2 linked regions of the Homo sapiens genome follow. The protein of the gene in region 2 interacts with the protein of the main gene of each other region in a pairwise test. Each region holds a gene or a part of one and is shown on either strand. Other genes may lie near its edges.

Region 1 (5,006 bases), on a different chromosome or scaffold from region 2:
CCAAAAATAGTGACCAGGATGGTGGGCAGATGTTAGCAGAGGGTGAAGAAAACAGACTAAGGTTGGGAGACCTGGAGGAGACCCCAAGAGACCAGCCTGGCTCTCCTTAGATGTGGGAAAGCTCAACTCAGTACCAGGACGTTAAACAAGAGGCCATCTAAAGTCCAGCTGGGGGAATCAGTCTTCAACTGGAACAAGTAAAGACATTCTAAGGATAAACCTTAGAGGAAAAAGTTGAACTAGATGACTAAGGAGATTCATTCATTAGGTAAATATTTTTTGATAAGCTGTGTGCCAGGTACTAGAGGTACATGGAAGAATAAACCCAGGGCTTACCTTTGCTGTCTGCTGGGGAAGACATGAATAACTAAACTGCAGTGTGAGTGCTTTCATAAAGTTACTAAAGGAGTGTTTGGGGATCACAAAGGATGGAGCAACCAACTTGTTCCCAGAAGCATAGGTGTCAGGAGAGGCTGTGAAGAGCTGAGGTTCAAATTGGAAAGATAATCAATCAGCAGAGTTCAGGCAGAGAAGGGTGTGAGACATTTCAGGCAGGCAGGCAGGCAGGCAGCAGGGAGCAGCAGGGATTCTGAGAGAGCACATGAGCAAGGGGGCTTGGGAATCAGATTCTGGCTTAGCTACTCCCTGGTAATGGAGCCATCAGCCTCTTGTCTGCTATTGCAGGGCACATAGAGTAACACCCAGCTTTGAGAGTTGGGAGAATTCAGGATAGGTTTCTGGACATGATGATTGATGATTTGTGGCTAGAAGTAATTTTCATGAGTTTGATCGTTATTTGATATGGACAGAGACCTTAGAGAGAAATGGATTTCGACTGATTTGCTCAGCTTGTTGCTGGGGAGGGAATGGGAGAGCCTGAGAGTTCTCTCTAGCCCTAGGCAGAGGGTACTCCGGCATTCCTCCCTAAACTGGATGCTTTCTTATCTGAGTCAGTTATCTCACCAAACCTCCCTTTCTGGGAACTGAGGTGGTTCTCATCAAGGAGGAGAAAGAAACTGGCTGCTGTCCTGTCCCGGTTTTCAGTATTATAGTTTCATTGAATTAAATAAGTTTTGATTTACATACTTTTTTTTCAATTTTTGTTTTTTTATTTTATAAAAATTTTTTGGAGAGACAGGGTCTCACTATCCATGTTACCTTTCACTCGTGTCACTCGTGTCCGTGTGAAGAGACCACCAAACAGGGTTTGTGTGAGCAACAAGGTTGTTTATTTCACCTGGCTGCAGGCGGGCTGAGTCCAAAAAGAGAGTCATGGAAGGGAGATAGGAGTGGGGCCGTTTTATAGGATTTGGGTAGGTAAAGGAAAGTTATAGTCAAAGGGGATTGTTCTCTGGCGGGCAGGTGGCAGGGGTCACAAGGTGATCAGCAGGGGAGCTTTTGAGCCAGGATGAGCAAGGAGAAGGAATTTCACAAGGGAATGTCATCAGTTAAGGCAGGAACAGGCCATTTTCACTTCTTTTGTGAAGGAATGTCATCAGTTAAGGCCATCTGGATGTGTACGTGCCGGTCACAGGGGATATGGTGGCTTAGCTTGGGCTCAGAGACCTGACATTACCCAAGCTGCTCTTGAACTCCTGAGCTCAAGCAATCGCCTCTGCTTCCCAAAGCACTTGGACTGCAGTTGTGAGCCACCGCTCACAGCACCCGTGATTTACATACTTTTTGGAATTTTTTTTGTTTTGAGACAGAGTCTCTCTCTGTTGCCCAGGTTGGAGTGCAGTGGCATGGTCTCAGCTCACTGCAACCTCTGCCTCCCAGGTTCAAGTGATTCTCATGCCTCAGCCTCCCAAGTAGCTGGGACTACAGGTACATGCCACCATGCCTGGCTAATTTTTGTATTTTTAGTGAAGATGGGGTTTCACCATGTGGGCCAGGCTGGTCTTGATCCACCCTCCTTGGCCTCCCAAAGTGCTGGGATTACAGGCATGAGTCACCACACCTGGCCTACTTTTTTTTTTTTTTTTTTTTGAGACAGAACCTTTCTGTCACCCAGGCTGGGGTGCAGTGGTGTGATCTCAGCTCACTGAAACCTCCACCTCCTGGTTTCAAGCAATTCTCCCACCTCAGCCTCCCAGGTATTTGGAACTACAGGTGTGCGCCACCATGCCCAGCTAATTTTTCTCTATTTTTAGTTGAGACGGGGTTTCACCATGTTGGCCAGGCTGGTCTCAAACTCCTGACCTCAGGTGATCCACCCACCTCAGCCTCCCAAAGTGCTGGGATTATAGGCGTGAGCCACCACACCCAGCCAATTTACGTACTTTTAAAGCAAATATTTAACAAATGGATAGGATAGAGTAAAATAAATGACACCACAAATGTATATGTTTGGTTCATAAAGATAAGTCATTTGTAAGATAATGGTTGAAAGTGTAGGCTCTAGAGTCAAACTACTAGAGTCTATAACGCATCTCTGCCATTTCCTTGTGATGTTAACATGGGCAAGTTTTATTTTATTTTATTTTTATTTTTAGAGACAGGGTCTTACTCTGTCACCCGGGCTGGAGTACAGTGGCGCAAACGTAGCTCACTGAAGCCTCGAACTCCTGGGCTCAAGTGATCTTCCTGCTATAGCCTCCCAAGTAGCTGGGATTACAGGCCCACCACCATGCCCAGCTAATTTTTTTTTTTTTCATTTTTTTGTAGAGTCTCACTATACTGCCCAAAGTGCCAGGGTTGCAGGTATGAGCCACCATGCCCAGCCATGGGCAAGTTTTTTTTAACCCCTCTGTGCCTCATCTATAAAATGGAGATTACAAATCTATTTCATAGGACTGCTGCAAGGCTTAAGTGAATTGATACATATACGGTGCTTAGAACAATAACAGGTACAGAGGTGTTCAAAGTTAGCAGCTCAGGCACTAGCCTTGTCATTTTCCTTCTCCAAGGTTTTACAGCAAGTTAAAATGAAGCTGGAGTTCAGCCAATCTTTGGAATCCTAAGAAACACAAGAAATTTAATAACAGCACTCGTAACGTAGTTACATCTTGCTTTACAGTTTACAAAGTGCTACCATGCCTTTTTTTTCTCATTTTGTTCTCATAAGAGCCTGGGGTAGATGAAGTTCCTGGTGGCGCCATTTTATAGGTTAGGAAACTTGACTCTTAGGAAGTGATTGAGCCAAGAAAGGTTTGATGGCGATACAGTCTCTGTCTGCCATGTCCCCACTTCCTGCAAGGGTTATAATGAATCATGACTAATAGGAGGTGCAGACACACCTTCTGCAAAGGCTTGTAGTTAAATAAGGCAGCACGTGGAATGGACAGACTGGAGACAGTCCTTACCTCATGTGGAACCTAGGACAGGTAAGGCCCTGTCCTCCACCCCAGAGCTCACTTTGTCTGAGAGCAGCTGACCAGCAGTGGAAGACATTTGCTCAGCGATATATTAGTTATGGCTGCAAAAGCCCAAGAATTCATCCCCAAGGCAATTAAGATAAACCACAAATAGAGGATGGGTGCCTTGGCTCACACCTATAATCCCAACACTTTCGGGAGGCTGAAGTGAGAGGATCACCTGAGGTCAGAAGTTCAAGACCAGCCTGGCCAACATGGTGAAACCCTCCCTCTACTAAAAATACAAAAATTCGCTGGGCATGGTGGCAGGCAGCCTCAGGAGGCTGAGACAGAAGAATCGCTTGAACCCCAGAGGTGGAGGTTGCAGTGAGCCAAGATCACACCATTGCACTCCAGCCTGGGTGGCAGAGCGAGACTCCATCTCAAAAAAAAAAAAAATCAAATAGTAATTTGCCAAAAGTTTTTAGCAATGAACTTAAGTTCATTAAAACACATTGGTATTTATACCCTGAGCAAACAGGAGTCCTCCTGTGTTCTGGGCACTGGGTGGGGGCACAGGGGCATCACCAGATGCAAACTTGATCTTGACTAGGAGGGCCCCTCCTAGTCAAGTAGATTCACACCTTAAGTCAGTAAATCCTAGCCACTCCTTTAGTCTTCATCACTGGCATTTGATGGTTTTCCTCTTCTTCATGGCCCCAAATTTCTGGTTCTCTTTTTATTATATTATCTATGTCCTTTACTGTAACTCACCTCACAACCTTTTCGGAAAAAAGGACTCAATACAGGAAAGGAAAAACAGCCGCGATGTTGTGTTAACCTCTGGTTTTTCCTCTCTCTCCTTCCCCGCCCCCACCCCAGTCTTGACTCGTCTGCTGAACAAATCCTCTGACCTCAGGCCGGCTGTGAACGTAGTTCCTGAGAGATAGCAAACATGCCCAACAGTGAGCCCGCATCTCTGCTGGAGCTGTTCAACAGCATCGCCACACAAGGGGAGCTCGTAAGGTCCCTCAAAGCGGGAAATGCGTCAAAGGTACATGATTTTGCTGGGTTCTCCACGAAGGCAGCTGAGCCTCCCAAGTCTGTAGGGTTGTGTTCCTCTAGAATAGATGGTTTCCTCAATGACTGAGGTGTTTTGGTTATAATTTTTTATTTTTTGAGAGGGAATTTCACTCTTGTTTCCCAGGCTGGAGTGCAATGGTGCAATCTAAGCTTGCTGCAACCTCTGCCTCCCGGGTTCAAGTGACTCTCCTGCCTCAGCCTCCCAAGTAGCTGGGATTACAGGCATGCACCACCACACCCAGCTAATTTTGTATTTTTAGTAGAGATGGGGGTTTCACCACGTTGGTCAGGCTGGTCTCAAACCCCTGACCTCAGGTGATCTGTCCACCTTGGCCTCCCAAAGTGCTGGGATTACCAGCATGAGCCACCACGCCAGCCTTGGTTATAGTTTTAAATGTATTTTTCCTTTATCAACATTGGGATGCCTGTGGTCTAAAGAGTCAGGGGTTCTCAAAGCCTTTGTGAAATACAGTGGCCCTCCAGCCCACCTCTCCCTATTTCCTGCTCAATTCTTTTAGCCGATCTTTTGGTTATGTACTCCCCATATCTGTAAATATTCTGCTTATCATATTGTTCCTTGTTGATTTTCAAGTTGGGGTCTTTCAGGTGGAAATGAAGCATTCGTAC
Region 2 (5,006 bases):
ATGGGAAATGTTTCATTGTATCCTCTGGCTAAAAACAGAAATCAAACTCTACTACAATGAATACCAAAAAAAAAAAAAACTGTTAAAATTCTTTAGCATCAAAGGACTTTAGCTGCATTAAATATTGCGTAAATGGGTCAACAATTACAGCCTAAAGTCTTTCGTTTCTTATCTGCATCTTCTTCCCCATCTTAGGAAATTATAACTATAAAATAATTTTAAATAAAAGAATGTTAATAGGCAAGCTATTAGTCAATTTACTTTTGTACCTTTCCTAATATTGTATGTAATGGCTCTTCCTCGTCTCCATAGCCTGGCCCATCCATTTTCCACTGCTTCACAGTTTTGTCATCACCAACCTAGAAATATTTGTTTTATTATGATGATGGTAAGGAACAACAGTTATAAATTAAAACTTGCCAACACATATCAAATAAGTATCTTGTTTAAAACAGGTAACATACCATATCATTCCAGTATTACACTTATTGATCCATTTATATCCCACCTTGTTTTAGTAAAGATTTGTGACAAATACATAAAGTACATAAAACTAAAAATATAATGAGTAGAGCAAAAGAAAAACAAGAACAGGGGCAAAGTTAGGTCATGCATATTGTGATAAACATGGCATTTCAACTTGGAGAAAAAATGGATTATAAAAAATGGTATTATAATATCTGGTTAGTCATTCAAAAAAATTGAGCCAATTTGATGCCTTATGTGAAAATAAAATTCCAGGTAATTTTAAATGTAAAAAATAAAATGAAAAACATGAAAATACTGGAGAGAAGGCATTGTTATAATATTGAAATAGATAAAGTCCTTTTCTGCATGAACTGCAGAAACTACTAAGTCAGTGGTTTTCAAACTGTGAACTTTGGGCCTCTGGAGGACCCTGAGAACTTTTCAGGGTCCACACAGTCAAAACTATTTTCATAATGTTAGTAAAGACATAGTTTGTCTTTTCACTGTGCTGACAGCTGCACAAATAGTAAAAAAGCAACAGTGAGCAAAACTGTTGGCACGTTAGCCCAAATCAAGGCAAAGCAACAAACTATGGTAATTTAGACATGGGTATTTGGCAGACATGTTTAAGCTATCAGGTGAAACAGACTACAAAACAGAACATATAATGTAGTTTGAGGTTGAAAACAAAATCATAAATGTGGTACTGTATAACTGCATACATACAAAACTGCTAGTTTTAACTTAAAATCTTACATTTATATATTAGATGCAATCTATATCCACTTTTTGATAAAATCATTAACAAAGATATCTTTATCTAAGGGAAGAGTATGAATGTAGCTCTTTTCTTACAGCAAATTCAAAAAGGAAAACGCTTCTTGCAAAACAGTTTACAGTGCCCATGAGATGAAAACAGATAAGTGATCAGGAAAGGTTTTGGTACTAAGATTACACAGCGATGTCTTTTGTTGAGGATGTCGATGAACAGAATCCTTAACTACATCCTTGTTATAGACAAAAAGTATTTAATAGGGCTACATCTTATTAACAACTATGAATCTGAGCCACTGGCACTATACTAAAACTCAATTCTAGAAACCTGATTCTACTGGGAGACTAAGATGTAATCTAGGTACCAGGTCTTGACTGATCTGGCTTGACCCAAAGAGACATTTTAGCACTTACAGAATACAGGATAAACTGTGTCCCTGAGCACCCCGTTCCTGAAGACGCTATCCCTCCATCAAGTTTCTGATAGTGTCTGCAAGCTCAAGACTGAATTTGCTTGTAAATGACCAAGCTGTTCTGCCGTCTACTGAGTACAAACCTCAGCGGACCACCAATTCTGGGAAGGGTTTTCTCATTTTATAGAAATGAGTAGCCGAACAAGAATATGTGCCTGGCTAGAACATCTCATCTCCAGGCTGGTTATGCTGAAGAAGGAATTGTTGGTATTACAAACTGGTATATCTTAGTGAAGTTTTAGGTAATAAAAGTTTATGTTTTGCAACACTGTGTACTAAAATTTTTAAAAACATTCTTAAAGTTGTACCAGCAAGTAGTCTTCACATGTGTCTTATCTCTGACAAAGCACACATTACTCAAAAATATCTTTTTGGTTGGGCATGGCGGCTCGCGCCTGTAATCCCAGCACTTTCAGAGGCTGAGGCGGGTGGATCACTAGGTCAGGAGATCGAGACCATCATGGCTAACACGGTGAAACCCTGTCTCTACTAAAAATAAAAATAAATAAAAAAATTAGCCGGGAGTGGTGGTGGGCACCTGTAGTCCCAGCTACTGGGGAGACTGAGGCAAGAGAATGGCGTGAACCCGGGAGGCAGAGCTTGCAGTGAGCAGAGATCATGCCACTGCACTCCAACCTGGGCGACAGAGGGAGACTTCATCTCAAAAAAAAAAAAATCTTTTTGAAAAACCGAGAAACAATAAGGTGGGCATGGTGACTCATGCCTGTAATCCCAACACTTTTTGGGAGGCTGAGACAGGCTTGAGCCCAGGAGTTCAACATCGGCCTGGGCAACGTAGCAAGACTCTGTCTCTTTAAAAAAATAAAGTGGGGGGAAATAAGTGGTGAATATGAAACATTTTCAGTCTTTATTCATTTCTTAAAATGTTTTTTATTTAATTTACAAATAAAAGATATATATTTATGATGTACAACATTGTGTTTTGATACACGTAGACACTGTGGAATGGATAAACCAAGCTAATTAACATATCTGTTACCTCACATACTTATTATTTTGTGGTGAGAACATTTAATTCACTTTCATAGCAATTGTCAAGAGAGCATGTTGTTATTAACTATAATCACAGTGTTGTACAACATCCATCCCATCTATTTGAAATTTTGTCTCTTTTGACCAACATCTCCCCAATCTCCCTCCCTCAAAGCCCCTAGTAATGACCATTTTACTCCATTTCTAAGAGTTTGGCTTTTTTAGATTCCACACAACTGAGATCATGTGGTATCTGTCTTATTTAACTTAGCATCATGTCCTCCAGGTTCATTCATGTATGCTGCAAGTGACAGGATTTCCTTCTTTCTGAAGGCTGAATAGTATTCCTGTGTGCGTGTGTGTGTGTACTTTTTTTTTTAAAATTCATTCATCCATTGCTGGACACTTTAGGTTGATTCCATATCCTGGGTATTGTGAATAATGCTGCAAATGAGCCTTTATTCATTTTAAGCATTAAAAAAAAATACACTAAGTCCTCTGGCTGAGCTATTAATCAATATATCCAAGAGAATAACCAAGTGTAAGAAGCCTTAGGTGCCATCCATTCCCACTTGCCAATCAATTCCTTGCACAACACTGGGCTTGCAGGGTCAGGCAGCTTATCTGCACCCCTCTAGTGAAAAGTAACTGAATGCTTTGCAAGGTAGCCTATTCTGCTTTTTGACAGCAAATAAGTTTTTTTTTTTTACACCAAAACCGAATCTTTTAACACTAACACCTATTTCCAGTGCCTCTCTATGGAGCAACAAATTAGTCTATTTTCTTTTTCACATGACAATCTTTCAAATTGTAGCTATCAGGTTTCCCAGAAGTCATCTTTTCCCTTTATTATTCTCTTGCAATCTAGCTTCTGCACCCAGCCAACCTGGATTGCAACCTACATTTTATAACTCAGCTCAACCTGTTTTTTAAAAAGTCACCAGTAAATAAAGAATAAGGAAGATCTATTTGACTGATTAGCGCATGTGTATACAAAAACTGTTGTATAGGTAGGTCAAAACACTTGAAAAGACATACACCAAACTAATAGTGTTAGAAGTGAAAGACTAGAATTATGCAATCTTTAATTTTCTATTTTTTACATCTCTACATTTCTAAAATGTTTTCCTCAGTCTTCATTTTTCATTATTCTTTGTAGTAGTTCACAAAACTGACTATTCCTTCCTCCTAGGACACTATGCTCATTCACAGATTCTTTGAGCTCTGGCTACTCCTAGAGTTTTCCCACTTCCCAGAGGTGGGCATTCCCCAAGGCTACTTCCTTGACATCTTTGTATTTCTATATTTTCCTCCTCATTTCCTCCCAATGATGCCATACTATGGCTTCAATGATTAGTTCTATATTGATGATGTCAAGTTCAGCTCTGACCTCCCTCCTGAGCTCCAGACCTGCATCTGTAAAGGTATGACAGACATCTTCACTCGAACAGCCCATTAGCAGTCCAGTTTGTCACATCATATCCTTCCCATTGCCACCCTTCAAAACTTGCTGGTACTCCTCAGCAACAGGAACCAACCTCTTCCCAGGCACCTCTCAGTTGTCAAACCTGTCAATCCTCCAAAGTATCAACCACTGATTTCTAGTTTTCAGTCTCCATAATAAGGTAGCCTCTTATTATTGCCTGCCAAACTATTAAAATGGCCTTCAAACTGATCACTAACTGCTGTCAAATTACTTAACTCAAAGCACAGCTCAGATTTTGTCGTTCCCCTTGTTTAAAAAGACTTTCAATGAACTTGAATTGGTATTTGTACACCAATGGTCACGGCAACACTATTCACAATAGCCAAAAGGTGGAAACAAATCAAATGCTCATTGATGAATGAACGGATAAACAAAATGTGACACATACAATGGAATGTTATTTAGCCATAAAAAGAAAGGAAATTCTGACATGTACTACAACATGGATAAACCTTGAAGACAATTATGTTAAGTAAAATAAGCCAGACCCAAAAGCCTTATTCCACATACACAAAATGGTATAATTCTTTAAAATATGCTTCTATTTATATGAGGTACCCAGAATAGTCAAAATCACAGAGGCAAAAAGTAAAATAGTAGTTACCAGGGGTTGGGGACTGAGGGGACAGAGGAGTTATTGTTTAATGACTATAGTTTCAGCTGGGGATGATGAAAAAGTTCTGAAGACAGATGGTGGTGATGGTTGCACAGTGATGTGAATGTACTGGATGCCACCAAACTGTATATTTAAAAACAGAGAGTAAATTTTACGTTCCGGATATCTTGCCACACACAGGCACAAAACTTCGATG

What was found.
Region 1: the proteins of DCAF13 (region 2) and WARS1 interact in a two-hybrid assay, tested with the Homo sapiens proteins (one large-scale study listed by BioGRID and IntAct).

Annotation. Positions count from the first base shown.
Region 1 is NC_000014.9:100,368,431-100,373,436, reverse strand, and holds part of WARS1 (tryptophan--tRNA ligase, cytoplasmic), read left to right. Parts: intron 1-4,178; 5' UTR 4,179-4,251; coding exon 4,252-4,350; intron 4,351-5,006. UniProt on the Homo sapiens protein: Catalyzes the attachment of tryptophan to tRNA(Trp) in a two-step reaction: tryptophan is first activated by ATP to form Trp-AMP and then transferred to the acceptor end of the tRNA(Trp).
Region 2 is NC_000008.11:103,421,409-103,426,414, reverse strand, and holds part of DCAF13 (DDB1- and CUL4-associated factor 13), read right to left. Parts: intron 360-5,006; coding exon 270-359; intron 1-269. UniProt on the Homo sapiens protein: Part of the small subunit (SSU) processome, first precursor of the small eukaryotic ribosomal subunit.